Linked DNA regions of Homo sapiens: region 1 is linked to region 2. The links come from fine-mapping of genetic effects on gene expression. A gene starts in region 2. The other region holds a variant in brackets. All regions are shown on one strand. Distances are from middle to middle. Region 1 overlaps NRG1 (neuregulin 1). Region 2 holds the start of NRG1 (neuregulin 1).

Region 1 (9,045 bases), 26 kb after region 2:
GTGTGCATGTATACGTACATTTCTGATGGTTCACTTTAGTGATACTGTAGTTCAGTTTATCTGGGATTGCCTCAGTAGAAAGCTATACTCTTACTTGTTTAACTTTCTGTCTATTTTCTCCTTTAAAAAAGAAAAGATTATATAGTAGACTTATACTTGGTATCTGTCTGAAAAAAATTATATGAAAACTGTCTTTATTGCCAGGGAAGCACTTGTACTTTCTTTTCTCATTTATTCTTTTCTGCACTTTAATATTACAGTTTATTTGCTTCTGGCTTTCTTTCATAATTTATCAGAAATACAGGCTTGTATAGAAATCACCATTTTTTAAATAAAATTTTATTTTTATTAAATTATTGTGAGCTCATTGTTTTTTAAAACAATCATACACAAGTAAAACATTTACCTTGGGGGTGGGCATCAGTTCCTTTTCCCATCCGTTTTCATCTCTAGTTTTCTTTCCTAAAAACAAGCCCTCTCAACAATTCTAGTTAATTCTTTTTCTGATAGTTATCTTTTTTTTTTTTTTTTTTTTGAGATGGAGTCTTGCTCTGTCTCCCAGGCTGGAGTGCAGTGGCGCGATCTTGGCTCACTGCAACCTCTGCCTCCTGGGTTCAACCAGTTCTCCTGCCTCAGCCTCCTGAGTAGCTGGGATTACAGGCACACACCATCACGCCTGGCTAATTTTTGTATTTTTAGTAGAGACGGGATTTTTACCATGTTGGCCAGGCTGGTCTCGGACTCCTGACCTCAGGTGATCCGCCCACCTTGGCCTCCCAAAGTGCTGGGATTACAGGCGTGAGCCACTGCTCCTGGCCTCTGATATTTATCTTTATATTTTCTATATAACATGCATGTTCTGCTGTTTCTTTTTTAAAAACCTTTTATTTTAGGTCTTATAGGAAGCTTGTGCATTCATTTATTCAACACATAATTATTAAGTACCTAATACATTCTGTACATTGTGCTAGGTTCTGGAAATAAACAGAGAATAGAACAGACATGATTCTTATCCATGGAGAGCTTATATTCTAAAGATGCTAGGAAGTACTTTTAAATAAAACTCTGACTTATATATAAAAACTTCAGAAAAGAAAGGGCCTGCTTTTAAATATTTTTTTTGGTGTTGTCCACTACTTGAACTTCATCAAGTTCATCAGAAAAAATTTAAATGGTATTTCTAAATAAGTGGTTTGCTCCACTCTATCATTAAGCTTGTTAAGATGAATAAAAATCAGAATATTTTCAAATGTATGTAAATACATACATTCAGTGTATTTCCCAGCTTCAGAAAGTCCTAATTTCTGAAAGTCCTTGTTATCAACTCTTGTTTTGAAAGGACCCTTTCTTTAAGATAAAGTGTCACATACATTATTTTGTATTGATACAAATTATTGATGATTATGGATATTTTAGGTAATCAATACTAAGATAATTATGTTAATATGAATTATGATTATAGGGTATTGGTAACAGACAGGAGTGTAGGTGAATGATATGAATTTGCACTGAGTTTGTCATGCCCAGAAAGTTAATCTGAGCCAAATTTCTAAAAAGTGCCTTCCTTATTCCATATTATGTATGAAAGAAGAGCATAGTTTATGTGTGAATATATGGGCAACATGTATATAGATGTCCACATGAACTGCGCCTGGTTAGGTCCTAGAAAAGCCTATGGTGGGAAAGGTGGGTTAAGAGGATTGAAGTTAGGAGTGAACTTGTTATAGTCTTCATAAATATTTTTATAGCCAGTAACATAAAACAATAAAGACAGTGCTCCAAATTAAAGATACAGCAATGACATGACATCTACATTTGAAACTAGTAATAATGGATGCCGGGCCCTATTACTAATTTCTGCTTAGCATTCCTTACTCACCAGAAATGTTTTAGGATCTTAGTTCCTTTGCAGCTTGGGATGCTTGTAAATTCACTTGTTCTTTTATAAATAATGTGCATACAAGGAGATTTTCAACAGCATTTTCTTATCAAAGGTCTGGGCCTATAGTCAAATAGTCAATGCCATCGTGGTTTTACAGCACCCATGAGGAGGTGTTGACGTTCAGGTTTTAGCTTCAGGATTTTGACTTGTGTCTTCTTCCTGCTTGGGTCCTGTCTCTTCCCACCTCCCCAGCTCAGCCTTCATGTACGAATTTTAGATTCTTTTGCCTTCGTATCAGCCAGCAGAAGCTAGTTTTTTGTTTTGTTTTGTTTTTTTCAAGGCCTAGGTTTCCTTTTACTCACATCTTTCTTCAAGCTTTATTTGCAAACACCTCCATTCCTCTTGCCATTACTTTTGCTTCATGTCTATTTCAAAACTCTGTTTCATCTTTTTCTTGTTACTACCAATAGGAGTAAATTGAGTGACTTGCAATTAAGGTACAACAGAAGCAGAATTTTCAAAGTTACTCAAAAGGAATAGGTAGAAAAATTCCCATGGTAAGACAACTCAGTAAATAATTACATACAGGCAGTGACCATATATGCTCATTTTAAGTTACAAATATACACACATGGCCATAAAAATAGTCAGAGACTGAGCTGGAACTCAATCCGTAAACTGATTCCAAACCCCATGTAATTTTTATACACAGTTTATTGCTAGCTTTTTGTCCTTTTATGTTCACTTTTATGTCCTATCTTCTCTATATTCCTAAGTTGCCCACATTTTAAAATCTGCCTGTCTTCTGACTTTTTACCACAAGTGTTTTTTTCTCATCCACTTTTATTATTCTCATTTCCTGTTTTCAAAGAAACAATTGCAACACATTTTAGAAATGCTTACGACATAAGTGGCACACTCCTGAAGTCTTTCCAAAATCTATTTTCCTCCATGTCTTAATTTTTGAAATTTATATACTTAGCTTCTTTCTGCTAATTCCCACAGAAAAACTCAGCACAATTTTATAAGCAATGTGAATGATCTTAGAGCCCTCATAGGAATAAATTGCACAGAATGTTATCAATATATCATAAGTGAGGTACAGGATTAATTTTCTAAGATATCATTTAAAATTTCTTCTATTGTTACTATACACATTTGATTTATTAAGCCAAAACTTCATTCCTCTAAGAATAATAATCCCGTCACAGTTCTAATCCTAGCATAGTGTCGTCTTAACTGCAATGTACTATCCTAACTTTCAATTACATCTTATTTCAGCTTTCTTTATTATACAGTAGCTAAAAATCATTGATAGTTATAAAGACCATAATGCCATAACCTCTCAAATTTAAACAGGATAGAATATTTTATGTTACTAATACAGCAACAGAGGCATTTTCCTCTGTTGGGTAGATGCAATTATTCAGATTCCAAGTGGTTGAGACATTCCATAATTATGTCTCTAATTTTACATTCTACAGGCCTCATTTCCTCTGTCTGATAACTGTCCTCACCCAAGGGTTTCTACAAAGTCACAGTTTGGGTGAATCTGTCATCTCATTTTTTCAAAGAAGGAAATCATCATCAAATAAAATTATACACACCAAATAAATAAATATCAAATAATATATTAATCTACAAATTTGCGACATATTTATTTTCTGACTTTGAGGTTAATTTCGCCACCATTTTTCCTAATCTGTATATCCTATCCCCACTTGCAAACAATGTTTTGCCTGAACCGAGTAATGGCAACATTTATCGTAAGTATATCTTAGCTTCTTCTCCTTATCTGAATGGGGTTCTAGTTCCCTTAGCATTCTCAGATAACATTCTGAATATTCTACTCTGTATATCCAGTTTGTTCATAGACCTCAAAATGCAGACCCTGCATGGATTATTCCCATTCTGCTGTCTGTCTTTATGAAACCTGCCAATACTTATTGCTAGATGAAATTCTACAGATGTTCCATGATGACTTATTGACTCGATAACAGGGATCTGCAAACATTTCTGTAGAGACCCAACTCTGCAGTTGTAGCACAAAAGTAGCCACAGACAATTTATGAGCAAATGAATGCAAGTGTGCTCCAATAAAACTTTATTTACAAAAACAGATGGTAGGCAGGATTTGGCTTATGAGCCGTATTTTGCTGACCTCTGCTCTATAATATTCCTTGAAGAGATACTATTATCCCAATATCCTGACATAAAATATATATCCTTACCATTTGCTGTAGCAATATTCAATTTTTCTTTACCTGGCGTTGCTTATGTTCTCCAGCCAGTTCTGTCTTTTCATTAGGAATCTGAGTTAGGATTTCTTAGAACTATGTATTTGGGTAAGTTTATCAAAGGCCTTTTTATTTTTATTTTTTATTTTATTATTATTATACTTTAAGTTTTAGGGTACATGTGCACAATGTGCAGGTTTGTTACATATGTATACATGTGCCGTGTTGGTGTGCTGCACCCATTAACTCGTCATTTAGCATTAGGTATATCTCCTAATGCTATCCCTCCCCGCTCCTCCCACCCCACAACAGTCCCCGGTATGTGAAATTCCCCTTCCTGTGCCCATGTGTTCTCATTGTTCAATTCCCACCTATGAGTGAGAACATGCAGTGTTTGGTTTTTTGTCCTTGCGATAGTTTGC[T/G]GAGAATGATGATTTCCAGCTTCATCCATGTCCCTACAAAGGACATGAACTCATCATTTTTTATGGCTGCATAGTATTCCATGGTGTGTATGTGCCACATTTTCTTAATCCAGTCTATCATTGTTGGACATTTGGGTTGGTGCCAAGTCTTTGCTATTGTGAATAGTGCTGCAATAAACATACATGTGCGTGTGTCTTTATAGCAGCATGACCTTTTAAAGATCTTAGGAGCATAATGCTGTAACCTCTCAAATTTAAACAGGATAGAAGATTTTATACATTACTAATCTGGTTGGGTAGATGCAATTATTCAAATTCCAAGTGGGTGAGACATTCCGTAATTATGTCTCTAATTTTACATTCTCCAGGCCTCATTTCCCTCTCTCATTTCATCAGGTCTTCAAAAGGCTTTTAATAAACTTACCCAAATATATAATTCTAAGAAATCTCAAATTCAGTGCTTGATCAGATCACTGTGTGGTATAGTTTGTATATTTTTCCCCACCCAAATCTCATGTTGAATTGTAATCTCCAATATTGGGGGTGGGGTCTGGTAGGAGGTGACTGGATCATGGGGGTGGATTTCTCATGAATGGTTTAGCACCATTCCTTGGTGCTGTCCTCATGATAATGACTAAGATCTGGTCATTTTAAAGTGTGTGGTCTCTCTCTCTTTCTCTTGCTTGCTCGCTCCTGCTTTCACCATGTGATGTCCCCCACTACTCCTTTGCCTTCCGTCATGATTGAAAGCTCCCTGAGGCTTCACCAGAAGCCTGGCAGATGCCAGCATCAGGCTTCTTGTAAAGCCTGTAGAACTGTGGGCCAGTTAAACCTCTTTTCTTGATAAATTACCCAGTCTCAGTTATTTTTTACAGCAATGCAAGAATGGCCTAACACAATGTGTAATCTTTGTTTCATAGAGTTTACACTACAGCTTTGCCACCTAACTCTCCTATGTTAGTACATAGAATTTCTGAACCTTCAATCCTGTTCAGAATGCCAGATTGTGAGAGAATCAGTTATGCTTCAACCTTGAAAGCATGGAGTTCTCTGCTTTCAGGGAACTCCAGATGACTCAGGAACAGAAGTAAACCCTAGACAAATCTAAAGCCAAACATAGAATAAAGCTGAACAGCAGATCATAAATCCCATTCCTTGCTCCCTAGGAATACCTCTTCTTCTAACTCCAGCTTCAGATTTTTCCCCAGGTTTCACAATTGACCTTTGTCTTAGTGTCCATACTGGTTGGACATACCCCTCTGGCATAGACATTCATGATAGGCATTGCCATTCTTCATGATATGTCATTCTTGGCTACTTCCTCTTTTTCTAGGATGCATGTTTTAGCTCACTTCATGTTCAATTGCCTTGTGGTTGGCCTACTTCTTCTTTCTCTTCTTTCCTACTTTTGTGGTTGCTTTATAGTTGACTAATTACTAGTTCATCGGCTCTGCTTATTGCCTAATACTATAAAAGTTCCCTTCCTGGAAGGGTTGGGGATGGGAAAGTGGGGGTGGGTGGTAGTAAAATTAACTAAACTTTGTAGTGGGCTGGAGATAGGGCATGAGTAAAGGAAAAGTTGTATTTTAGGACTGCTCAACTGCATGGATATTTATACTTTTTAAGACAAGCAACATTAACAAAGTCTGGATCTTAAAGTAGAGATCTACACTGGAGATAATAATATCCCTGTGGGCATTTAATGCTCATGGTTACCTAGAAAATAAGTATAAAGTAGGAAATTTTGAGAGAGTATTCTTGTAAAGATTAAATGGTGACACCAATGTAAGGCTTGAATGTTCTAATAAGGGTGAAACTTGGTCTGGGAATGGCAGTTCTTACACCTTTTATAATTCTTAACTGTTATTTTTTAGATCTGGTCATTTAAATCTGAGGACCCAGATATGCTAGTCTTATAGAAAGCACAAATTTAAAATGGGTTCTTTGTCTTACATAGCTCTAAAGTTTAGGAAAAAAGTATCTTCAAGCAACCTTCATAGGAATTCTCCAAAATAAATGTGTTCCTGATTAATATGTGTTTTATTTTTTAAAATTTATTTTTAATTAATTTTTAAATTGACAAAATTGTATGTATTTATGGTATACAACGTGATGTTTTGAAATATGCATACACTGTGGAATGGCTAAAGCAAGCTATTTAGCATACGTGTCATCATCTCACATACCATTTGTTTGTGGTGAGGACATTTAAAATCTACTCTCTTAGCAATTTTCAAATAATGTAATTATTTTAAATCAGTTGTTTAAATATTATGAAATTACTTTCAGCCCTTAGAGAATAGTCCATCTCACATGACACATAAAAATGGAAGGAGGTGTCTAGCTCAGGAGAAACTTTTTGGAATATTTGATTCTCTTTCCCTCATTTTCTCTTCTTTTTTTGTTTTTTAAAAAATAATTTTTAAACCCTGTATTGACTCCTGGCTATTATTTTGAATATGAGTGCTAACAATTTGAGCCTTGTAGATAACTATCCCAATGCCAATTGAACCATAATTTTCATTTGTCTCTTTCTACAAGATTCTGAATTTTTTCAGAAGTGAAATTAAGTCTCAATTCCCTATAATTTACCCAGGGCAATAAATCTTAAACATTTTTTCTTAAAAAAACAAAACAAAACATTTTTACTGGAAAGACTTTATGGGGTGGACATTAACTCTGTAAATGCCATATAACTTTTGGAGAGGGCTGCCCCTGGCACAGTGTAATATTTATGAGAAAGTTGTGCCCATACTAACCACCTGTATGAGAATCGCCTGCGATGCTTTTGTTTAAAAGGCAGATTCTTTTTTCCCTATATTTTTCTCTTTTTAAAAAAATAATTTCGACTTATATTTTATATTTATATTTATATTATTTTAAAAAATAATTTCAACTTATATTTTATATTCAACCTACGTATGCAAGTTTGTCATATGAGTGATATTGCGTGGTGCTGAGGTTTAGGGTACGAATGATCCCATCACCCAGATACTGAGCATAGTACCCAATAGTTGGTTTTTCAACTCCTGTTCCCTCCTTCCCTCCCTGCTCTAGTAGTCCCCAGTGTCTGTTTTTGCCATCTTTATGTCTATGAGTATTTGATGTTTAGCTCCTACTTATAAGTGAGAGCATGGAGTATTTGGTTTTCTGTTCCTGCATTAATTCGCTTAGGATAATGGCCTCCAGCTGCATCCCTGTTGCTACACAGGATGCAGTTTCATTCCTTTTTATGGCTACATGATATTCCACAGTGTGTATATACTACATTTCCTCAATGCAGTCCACCACTGATGGGCACCTAGGTTGATTCCATGTAAAAGAGCATATTGTTAGGCTTTTCTCTGAATTACTGAATCAGAGTCTTTCAATGGGTTCCATGAATATTTCATATTCATTTTAGTAAACTTGCTCAAGTGACTTATGTATACAGTTATAGGTTTGGGAACCTCTGGCCTGGGGAAGTTGTCTGCAACACCACTGACAGGTCCCTGTCCTGCCACAGACATTTCTGCTGTAACTCCATGCTTGCATTTTTTGGGAAAAACAAAGCAAGACAAAACAAAACTCATTTTGCAAAATGACACACAAAATAAAGAGGCTTCTGGAAAAAGTAGGGCTAGGTGAAGAGAATTCAAAACTTACGAAACTATAAACTGAACACCAACAAGAATAACAATGAACCTAATAAAAAACTAGCATAGTTATGGCTCTAACAACATTTATTCTCAACAACTTAGTTAAATCGTTGTACCCTTAAACCTTAACACTTTTTTTTTTTGTTTTTCGAGACCTTGGTTCTTGAGGACATTTTCTTCTAGCAGAAATCAGTATTAACTTCTTTATCCATCTCTCTCTTTTTTTTAAACTGTTATGTACCATCATTATAGCACTTCTTACAAAAATGAGGAGCTGTCTTTGTAACTTCATCTGTGCCATCAGCTTTTCCAGATAGTTTAACATAAAAGGAAGATGAAGTGGTTCTGGAAGCAAGAAAACCAGCCACCACTTGCAGTAAGGAAGGCAGGTCTATGGGCCTATTAGCTCATGGAGGTTTTTGTTTGCTTGTTTGTTTGTTTTTGAGATGGAGTCTCACACAGTCGCCTGGTCTGGAGTGCAGTGGCTCCATCTGAGCTCACGGCAACCTCTCCCTCCCAGGTTCAAGCGATTCTCTAGCCTCAGCCTCCTGAGTAGCTGGGATTACAGGCACCTGCCACCACGCCCGGATAATTTTTTGTATTTTTAGTAGAGACAAGATTTCAGTATGTTGGCCAGGCTGGTCTGGAATGCCTGACCTCGTGATCCACCCGCCTCAGCCTTCCAAAGTGCTGAGATCACAGGCATGAGCCACCGTGCCCGGCCAGATCTTTTTAAATAAGATCTTCATGTGTTATAATACTAAGGTTGTCTCTTTAATCACAAAAAGCCAGTCCTTTATTGCTTCAAATTGTTCATGTGCTGATATCATATGTCTATTGAGGTCTGACTTACTACATTAACACAC
Region 2 (9,045 bases):
GTAATCATTAGTATGTAGTAATTTTTAAAAGTCACACAAGCAGAAAAACATAAACATAGATTTGATTTTAATGTTGTTTGAACATTGCCTTTTAGCATTTTTCTTTGAATTCTAAGCTCATAATTTTATCATAAAACTGTCTTTACAGCAGACAATGACTAATTAGTAATTCTATTAAATATTTGCCAAATGGAGGGTACCACTTCTAGTTTTGCCAGAGTGTCTTGCTGGTCAGAAGTGCTTTGCCTAATAAACTCAACATGCATGTTGATGCTAAGAGTCTAACTGAACACACAGGACAATCGCAAATCTGTGAATTATTAAGCCTCCTTTCACCTCAATTTCCTCCCTCATAGGATGGTCTTTGCTTATCTCAGTTTTGTGTGTATTCCTTTTGATTGCTTGTTAATGTCTCCTATTTATAGTGATATTATGTAACAGTATTATTTAATCTCCAAAATAGTATACAATTGTCAAGTACCATTGCTGTAATTATGGTGCAGATGTTGGAATATGCTTGGAATCACTAAAAGTGAATTTACCATAAGCTAAGGAAGCTTACTCTTCAGGGACTCTGACTTGCAAGAGCCTATTTAATTTCTTATTACCTAAATTTGTAAGTTTAATTTTGCAGTATTTTTCTTTTAAAAGATCCCCCAAATTTTATGAGCTTCATTTCCAGAAAACTCATCTGGCCTTGTTTTTCATATTGTATTGTCATATTTAATTTGTTTTTATGCCTTTCTCACAATATTTTAGGTTCATGAGATCAGAGACAGTATTTTATTTGTTTCTCTACTGCCTAGCTTATTATTTATTTATTTATTTATTTATTTATTTATTTATTTATTTATTGTTATGAGACAGGGTCTCACTGTCACCCAGGCTGGAGTGCAGTGGCACATTTATGGCTTACTGCAGCCTCAACCTCCCAGGGCTCAGGTGATCCTCCCACCTCAACCTCCCAGTAGCTGGGACTACAGGGGAGCACCACTACACCTGGCTAATTTTTGTATCTTTTTTTTTTTTTTTTTTTTTTTTGTAGAGACAGGATTTCCTCATGTTGCCCAGGCTGGTCTTGAACTCCTGGGCTCAAGCAATCCACTCATCTCAGCCTCTGAAAGTGTAAGAATTACAGGCATGAGCCACCATGCCCGGCCTGTCTATCACTTAGTTCAGTAAATGCTTGGTGAATGAATGAATCATATACATTTAGTGGTTGTTTTGAAGTTGACTCTGCTGAGTGAGATTTTCTTTGCATTCATGCATCTTCATTAATGTCAACTTTGTTGCAGTTTTTAAAAAAGTAATCTTTGTTTACATTATCTTAAGTTACTTGATTTAAAAAAGTTAAAAGTGACTATTTGCAGAATTCTAAAGTCCCATTACTGTCAACATGCATAATATTTTGCCAAAAATGCAATTTGTCTTGTTAGTCTTCTTTAATTTTTCCATGTTTTAAAACTTTTCTTGGAGTATTTCCCAAATGGGATTTACTGAGAGGATATATTCAGCCAGCTTTGTAGATTCTAAGAGTCCTTCTAAAAGTTAAGTCTAGCCAAGGAAAAATGTAGTGGCACACGATTGCGTTTCTCTTACGCTGTCATTTAATGTGAGATCTAAATTTTGCATTTCTTTAATGCCCAAGGTGTTTATTTTTTAAAATCTGTACTCTTTTTATCAGGAGTTATGTTGACAATTTACCTGGGAGCTGATATACCCTATATAATACATGATCTAAGACCTGAACAATACACAAATTAATAAAATTAAACCATTAAGATATGTCATCATTTCTAAATTATACAATTGGGTTTTTTTTTTAAAGCAAAAATATTCTTCCTCTTTTCTCCATCCCTTGTTCTGGTCAGTTCCAAGGTTTTTTACAAATGCAAAAGAAATTCATTTGCTACTCCTGACCACAGAGATGAATAATTTAAGGACAATATCAAATTCTTGATAAATCTCATAAATGTTTTAACTGTCCAAGAAATGGACATTTATTTGGTTAATCTTTTAGCTGGCCATAAATAATGTAATAAAACCCCTTAAAATTAACATTAAATAACATAAAGACCTAACGATTTTTAGAAAAAAACCTTTTTGGACTGAGCCTTGAATTTCCTGAGAATTCAGCTACAAGTGATAACTAAAATGTAACTCGAGAATCTGGATATGGTTCCAGAAAGGATTGTTGTCATGCAATTGCCATTTCATCATCTTTCCTTAAAGTCCCTTCAATATTTATCATTGCAATTTTTGTCCTGTCTTTTCCCCTCCATCACATCAAACCAAGGAAAAACAATTATTAAATGCTCATTTATACTCACCTCCCTCCCTTCATATTCATTCATTCCTCAGCCCTAAAATTCCTGTAGGAATCCTGCTTTTACGTTTTATCTTAAAGCCACCATAGTATCTGTAATCTCTTTTGTAGTCATGTATGCTTAATTTTGGAAGACTGTCAACTACCTCTTCAGGTTCATTCAAATGAAAATGTATCACAAAATCGTAGGCTCTTCCCCTATCTCACTGAAAAATTACTCTAAAAATGACCAGTAAGCTGTTTTGTTGAAGCAAAACATCCAGACCCTAAACAAAAGTAGCAGAATTACAACATTTCCATAGAAATGGATTTTGAGCTTCTTTTTTTTAATTGGGGAAAATCTTATTTTTTAAAAAAGAATCCCAGAATACATCTTTGCTTTCAGTCCTTCAATTCTAACATAATGCCATGTTAGAGAATATGTGGTAGTGTATACTAAGCCCTTATGCTGTCTCACATCCTTGGGACAAAATATCTGTTTTGAAAGGACTTCTCTGAATTTTGCTATTTCCTGCTTACTGAGCAGTGGCCCCCTCCTGGGAAAACAGAGTTATTTCAGCCAGTGTTCAGACTCCATCTTGCATACGTCTCTGTGGAATATTAATAGTGCTACTGAGATATATTCATCATCTTTTCTCTGCTTTTGCTGTCTTTATAGCCCAGTGAAATTTATATTTGGTGTTTGTAGGAAGGCTATCAGAAGCTACTTGGACATCAAACTTTTAAACTATAAATAATGATGGCAAGACTGCTAGGATATCTTTCCACAGTTAAACCCATTCAACAGAGTTTCGTTCTTATGACAGTGCAAATTAAACTAGAATAAAATTAGTGTGATTTTAGGACAGTTTTAAAGTGAACATATTTCCCTCCCTCCCTTCCCATCTACATATCAAGGAGACACTCCAGACTGCACTTTTATTTAAATTGCGGCCATCAGAAAATACCGTGAGAAGGTAGTGTGTAGGTAATGGTTCAGTTAGCATTGACCCCAGAAAATGGAAAACCAAGAGCAAGTCACTTTTAAAGTGAAGCAATAGATTTTGAATATGGATTGTTCCAACTCACCACTTCCCGACCACAACACAAGAGTATTTCACTGTAAATTAAGAGTCTAAGTTAACCACAGCTGTGGTATAACTCTGAGAATGTTTTCTCTACATGTAGACAATTCTGGATCCTTCCGTGGTGCCCGTTACCCTGGTCTTTAACTTTTGTCCTTTGCAGGGGAGGGGTCAATGCCTTCTTATTTCCTTGCTCTTTAGAATTCTCCACCAGAGGGAGGACAAGGGAAGGAGTAGGTTTCACGCGCAGTTCTGAGTAAAGTTTGAATCTGAGAAACCCCACATTCACGAATTAAGGATCTCCAGTTCTGTGTCTTTATTCTACCCCTCCCTGCCTGCTTTTCCACTCGGCAGAACTGAGTGACTTTCAGCGGCTGCAGTAATTTTAATTATTCTGAGTCGTGCTCCGAACTATGTTTTTTATCAGTTCCTCTGAAAATTAAGTTGTAGTAAGAGACGTAGTTTAAGGGCACCCCCTTAGAAGAGGCCAGGTTATTTTTTAAGGAAAAGCTGAAGATTTCTAACAGGCACTTACTAAACACACACACACACACACACACACACACACACACACGCACACGGCGCAGACCCAGCAGGAGAGCGCAACCTAGCATCTTTAAGGTTCGCTTAGCCCTTCCTGTGCACCTGGAAGGAAGCCTTATCTTAAACTCCCTTCCACCTAGAGTTTATTTTCGCCTGCGTGCGACAGGGCTTTTGTACTTAAGTGAGTTAAGGAATGAACCCCGAACTCTTCTGGGAAAGCCACCAACGTTCCCCCCGCACCCCTCCCAGGGTTCCTGACCACGGAGACTCTGCTTGGGGCACAGGTGTGGGAGTCGCAAACTTTTCTCTGCGCCGTCCTTTTCCGCGTGGAATGGGACGGAGCAGCCCTCCCAGGCGCTGCCTGGCTGCGGAGGGGAGCGGGCAGCGAGAGCCTCGGGTCTCCGCCTGGGTTCCCGGGTCTCCGGGGCGCTGGCCTCGGTCTCCGCGCAGCGTCCAGCGACCCCTGTCGGGGGTTCCCGGCAGCCGCGCCGCCACCCCCCGCCCGGCCAGCGCGGGAGGAAAAGGGGCTGCGCCCGGGAGCGCCGAGCCCAGGCTCCTCCCGGTGGCGTGTCCGCGCCTCGGGGTGGGGGTGTGGTGGGGAAGAGGGAGGGGGCGAGGCCAGGGGAGGGTGCGAAGGAGGCGCCTGCCTCCAACCTGCGGGCGGGAGGTGGGTGGCTGCGGGGCAATTGAAAAAGAGCCGGCGAGGAGTTCCCCGAAACTTGTTGGAACTCCGGGCTCGCGCGGAGGCCAGGAGCTGAGCGGCGGCGGCTGCCGGACGATGGGAGCGTGAGCAGGACGGTGATAACCTCTCCCCGATCGGGTTGCGAGGGCGCCGGGCAGAGGCCAGGACGCGAGCCGCCAGCGGTGGGACCCATCGACGACTTCCCGGGGCGACAGGAGCAGCCCCGAGAGCCAGGGCGAGCGCCCGTTCCAGGTGGCCGGACCGCCCGCCGCGTCCGCGCCGCGCTCCCTGCAGGCAACGGGAGACGCCCCCGCGCAGCGCGAGCGCCTCAGCGCGGCCGCTCGCTCTCCCCCTCGAGGGACAAACTTTTCCCAAACCCGATCCGAGCCCTTGGACCAAACTCGCCTGCGCCGAGAGCCGTCCGCGTAGAGCGCTCCGTCTCCGGCGAGATGTCCGAGCGCAAAGAAGGCAGAGGCAAAGGGAAGGGCAAGAAGAAGGAGCGAGGCTCCGGCAAGAAGCCGGAGTCCGCGGCGGGCAGCCAGAGCCCAGGTGGGTGCGCAGCGCGGCCCGGGCCCCACGATCCTCCTCCTGCTCCTCCTACTCCTCCTCCTCCTCGGATGCCGTGGCCTCTCCCTCCCCCTCTCCCTCGCCCGTCCTCTTCGCCCTGCGCTCTGAGCGCCCGTTGAGTCGCGCGGTGCTTCCCCTCCTGGGGGCCGCCGCTCACCTGGGCGCCGAGTCCTACCGGGCGCCTACGCCCAGAGCTCAGGGCAAGGGACAGCAGTCCCGGCCGCACCCTCCCAGAGTCCCGGGAGCGCTTCGCTCCCTGGCACGGCCCCTCCCCAGCGCCTTAGCGGCTGAGCCCAGCCCGGGAGTGGGACCTGGGCTATAGGAGTCGAGGCTGCGTGCGCGCGTGCCCCGCGCCATAAGCGCTTTGCACGGGGGCCGTGTGCCCTCTAGCGGGAAACGCTGGAATGGGCCGCCTGGAGGGAGAGCCGGTCCCCTCGGTGTGCCTGGCAGCGCAGAAGTGGGTGGTCGAGCAAGAGGCCGCGTGGGAAGTTAGCTTCGGCGTTTTGGGGCACAGGGCAAGCGATGTAGAGTGCGCGCCGGTTCATCTTGATTCAGTCCTGTGCTACGGAGACTCAAGAGCAGCGGCAGGGATTCCTAAAGGTCAGCGAAGCAGATGAAATCTAGTCCAGTGTCAGGAATCAGCTCTGCCCCAAACAAGTTCTACAAACTTTTGGCTTAACAGTTCTATTTTTCAAGACCTCTGTGATAAATATGGATAATTTACTTTCCCAAGAGATGTAAGAAAACAACCGTTTATCTGAATTTTTGAACCCAATTGTTTGCTGGTTATCTATATAATAAAATGGCAATTGAAGCTTTCTAGAAACAAATCTTGTATTTCATCATCAGAACACGAGCATGAACAAAAGCTTTACCTTAGATGTCCCTAGGAAGCGCTGATGCTTTGGACATTACCTTGGACAAAAGAGGCATGTCGAATAAATACTTGTTTATGAGTGATTGGTAGGTAGCTGATAAAAGAGGGGAGGAAGGAGATGGGGGAGAATTTATTTTTTGCCTCTGCAATTCCCAATTATTAATTGATCCAGATGCCTTAAGTCGCTTCGAGCGTACCCCCAACACACATTTCATGAAGCACTTCTGCAGAATTAATTCACTAGTACTTGATAATACTGTGGCTACAGTAATACTGTAGAAGTATTTGTCCCTTGCTGGAAGAAAACAAACCACATTTGCTTGGTCTTCTTACTGGTATCACTGATAGCATTTCAGAACCTGGGTTATTGGCAGAGACCTTCAGCAGAGTTTTGAGCAAAACAGAAATTGAACAGAGAGTAATTGTTTCACCACTGGCCATTCTTGTGCTTGCTTCTTTAATAAGATCCTGCTGATCATATTCACTTCAATTACTGATCATTGCCCCTCATGAGGGTGTATTGAATTTTCCCTTATTTTTACCCTATATTTTGGGGAGAGACCATAGCACTTTATTCAACAAGATAGGAAATTGGGGAGCTGGATTAGTTACCTCCCTGCGTGACTTTGTCTACTGTCCTTTCTAAGGTCATCATAGTACATTACGGAGATTTCAGACCTAGCTCAAATCGTTGTAAAGAGTTATTTTGGGGGCTCTTATCACTGTTTGTGGTTGTGTTCTCCTGTCTCCCTGCTCATTGGCTTCAGAAGAAGTTTCTGTGGTCCTCTGTAGATGGTCTAATGAATTAAGAAGGGGCCAGCGGTCTGAAGTAGCATCCTGTTCAGGTAATAGGTGTGCATTTTGTCAAGGGCTCCCAGCAGCAGTACCGTAACACAGCAACTTGACAAGTTCAGTGGGGGAGGGGCAGGCATTTCTGTGCCCTCCAGATCTCATCTACTAGGTAGGCAGCTGTCTTGTGATTAGCTACGCTCTCTTGACACAGAGCACCAGAGCTTCCTTGGTGGCTCTCATCTGCTTTCCAGTGGTACAGCAGTGATTCCCTGTAAACCAGCTAAGTCAGTATCTTTAAGTGACATTTGCTTAACTGTCTTCCCTGAAAAATTGGGGTGAATTTGGCTGTAGGTTAGTTTTTAGTATATTTGTCTCTGTTTTCCACCAGATTATAATCTTTTTTGGGGAGGGACTTTTTACCCCCTTCGAAGCATCTTGTGCTTTTTAAACCAGATAAGAATATGTATTCTTTATTTGATTCAGAAAGAATGGTCAACAACTTGAAACCAGCTTTATATAGAAGCACATGGCATTAAATACAATGCTTCAGAATCAGTGTTTCTTTCCTTCTTTGTCATTTTCCTTATAATGGTAAGTGCCAGTGTAGTTTTCCTTGTCTTAGGAGAATTCATACCTGATGACTATAATGGTTTGTGAGAAAAACCCACACTCTAGGTTTCAGGCATTCCCAAAGGAACGACCTATAGATGCCATAACTCTAGTATTCACACTTGCCGTGCCAGCCCAAATTAGGACTTAGGAGGACAAGTTTCTCTTGTATTGCTCCCATCTTAGTGCCTGTCAGTTCCAAGTTTCACTCCTTTCTTAAAACAGCCACTGCAACTGTCTGTCCTTGATGATATGTATGCAATAGCCAAGCCTCTCTTCAGCTGTTTTAACATTGCCTCATGACAGTCAGGGGAGAGATAATGGGGTGGGATCTCAGCCACTCAGCCCCGCTGTGTGCTATATTGTACGCATAGGCATAAACACATCTGTTGGAGGGAAATTTTCAGGGGGAAAAGGCTTCTTTAACTTTCATATGGCATGAGTGACTGATATGCGATACATACATGGCTATTTCAGAGCATCTGCACTTTTATACAATTAACTAAATGTTGAATTGCACACTATTGGGGCTGCAGATGTTCAACACAATTATCTATTCCATAATAATAGCTCTAATAGGTCCCAAGCCCTTGGAGTCATTGATTCCTTTTCTTTGCTCAAAATAAGCAAGCTAAGAATAGTCTTGGGTGCTGTATCACTGATCCACGTACCAAGAGCCCTGTAACAGCCTGGGTCTCCTTGGTGCTGGACCTCCCATATCCAGCCTCTTCATACTGATTCAGCTCAACAGACTTTTTCTCTTGAAGCCTGAATTACAAAACCAGAGCTTTTTTTTTTTTTTTTTTTTGACGGAGTCTCGCTCTGTCGCCAGGCTGGAGTGCAGTGGGTGCAATCTCGGCTCACTGCAACCTCTGCCTCCTGGGTTCAAGTGATTCCCCTGCCTCAGACTTTTGAGTAGCTGGGACTACAGGTGTGCGCCACCATGCCCAGCTAATTTTTGTATTTTTAGTAGAGACAGGGTTTCACCATGTTGGCCAGGATGGTGTCGATCTCTTGACCTCGCAATCCACATGCCTCGGCCTCCCAAAGTGCTGGGATTACGGGCATGAGCCACGGCGCTTGGCCGCTTTTTTTTTTTTTTTTTTTAATTTTTGGCCAATTGGTATTTGACTCTAAGCTTCCTTTGTGATTCTCTGTCGATATGTTGTTCTTACTCTGCACCTCTGCACGGAATTCTGTCTTTTTTCTTTTTCCTCTTAAATAACCTGGGAAAAATTCACTATCATGCCTAGCCAGATTCTAGAACTATCCTGTCTCCCTTCACTCCTGGTAGGAGGGGCATTTGTGAGTCTGGGTGATGGAAACATTGAGAAACCTAGTATCCCAAATAGGTAGAAGCAGGCTGTGTGTTTCCCCAATGACATCACCCACCTGTTTCCCTCACTAAGTGGCTCTGCAGGCTGAAGTGCTTGTAAACATTCTTGCGTATAAAGTACCCTGACCCTAACGGGGCAGCCTGTGTTTACAGAACAAGAGGAATGTCCAGTGATCTGTTTCAACCTGGTTACTTGTAACCACCTAGCCTATGTAATTATTAAAAACATTAAAGATTATTCACAGAATG

Evidence for each region.
Region 1: its variant is fine-mapped to the expression of NRG1 in whole blood (TOPMed, PIP 0.96).

The regions. Positions count from the first base shown.
Region 1 is chr8:32,569,391-32,578,435 of GRCh38, forward strand. All of the region lies in intron 1 of NRG1 (neuregulin 1), which reads left to right. Among named protein-coding and RNA genes, the nearest start is that of NRG1, 26 kb to the left of the region's middle. The variant T/G (reference allele first, on the strand shown) is at 4,542.
Region 2 is chr8:32,543,663-32,552,707 of GRCh38, forward strand. NRG1 (neuregulin 1) reads left to right here and starts at 4,649. Exons shown (of 12, transcript NM_013964.5): 1 at 4,649-5,164. The coding sequence starts at 5,065.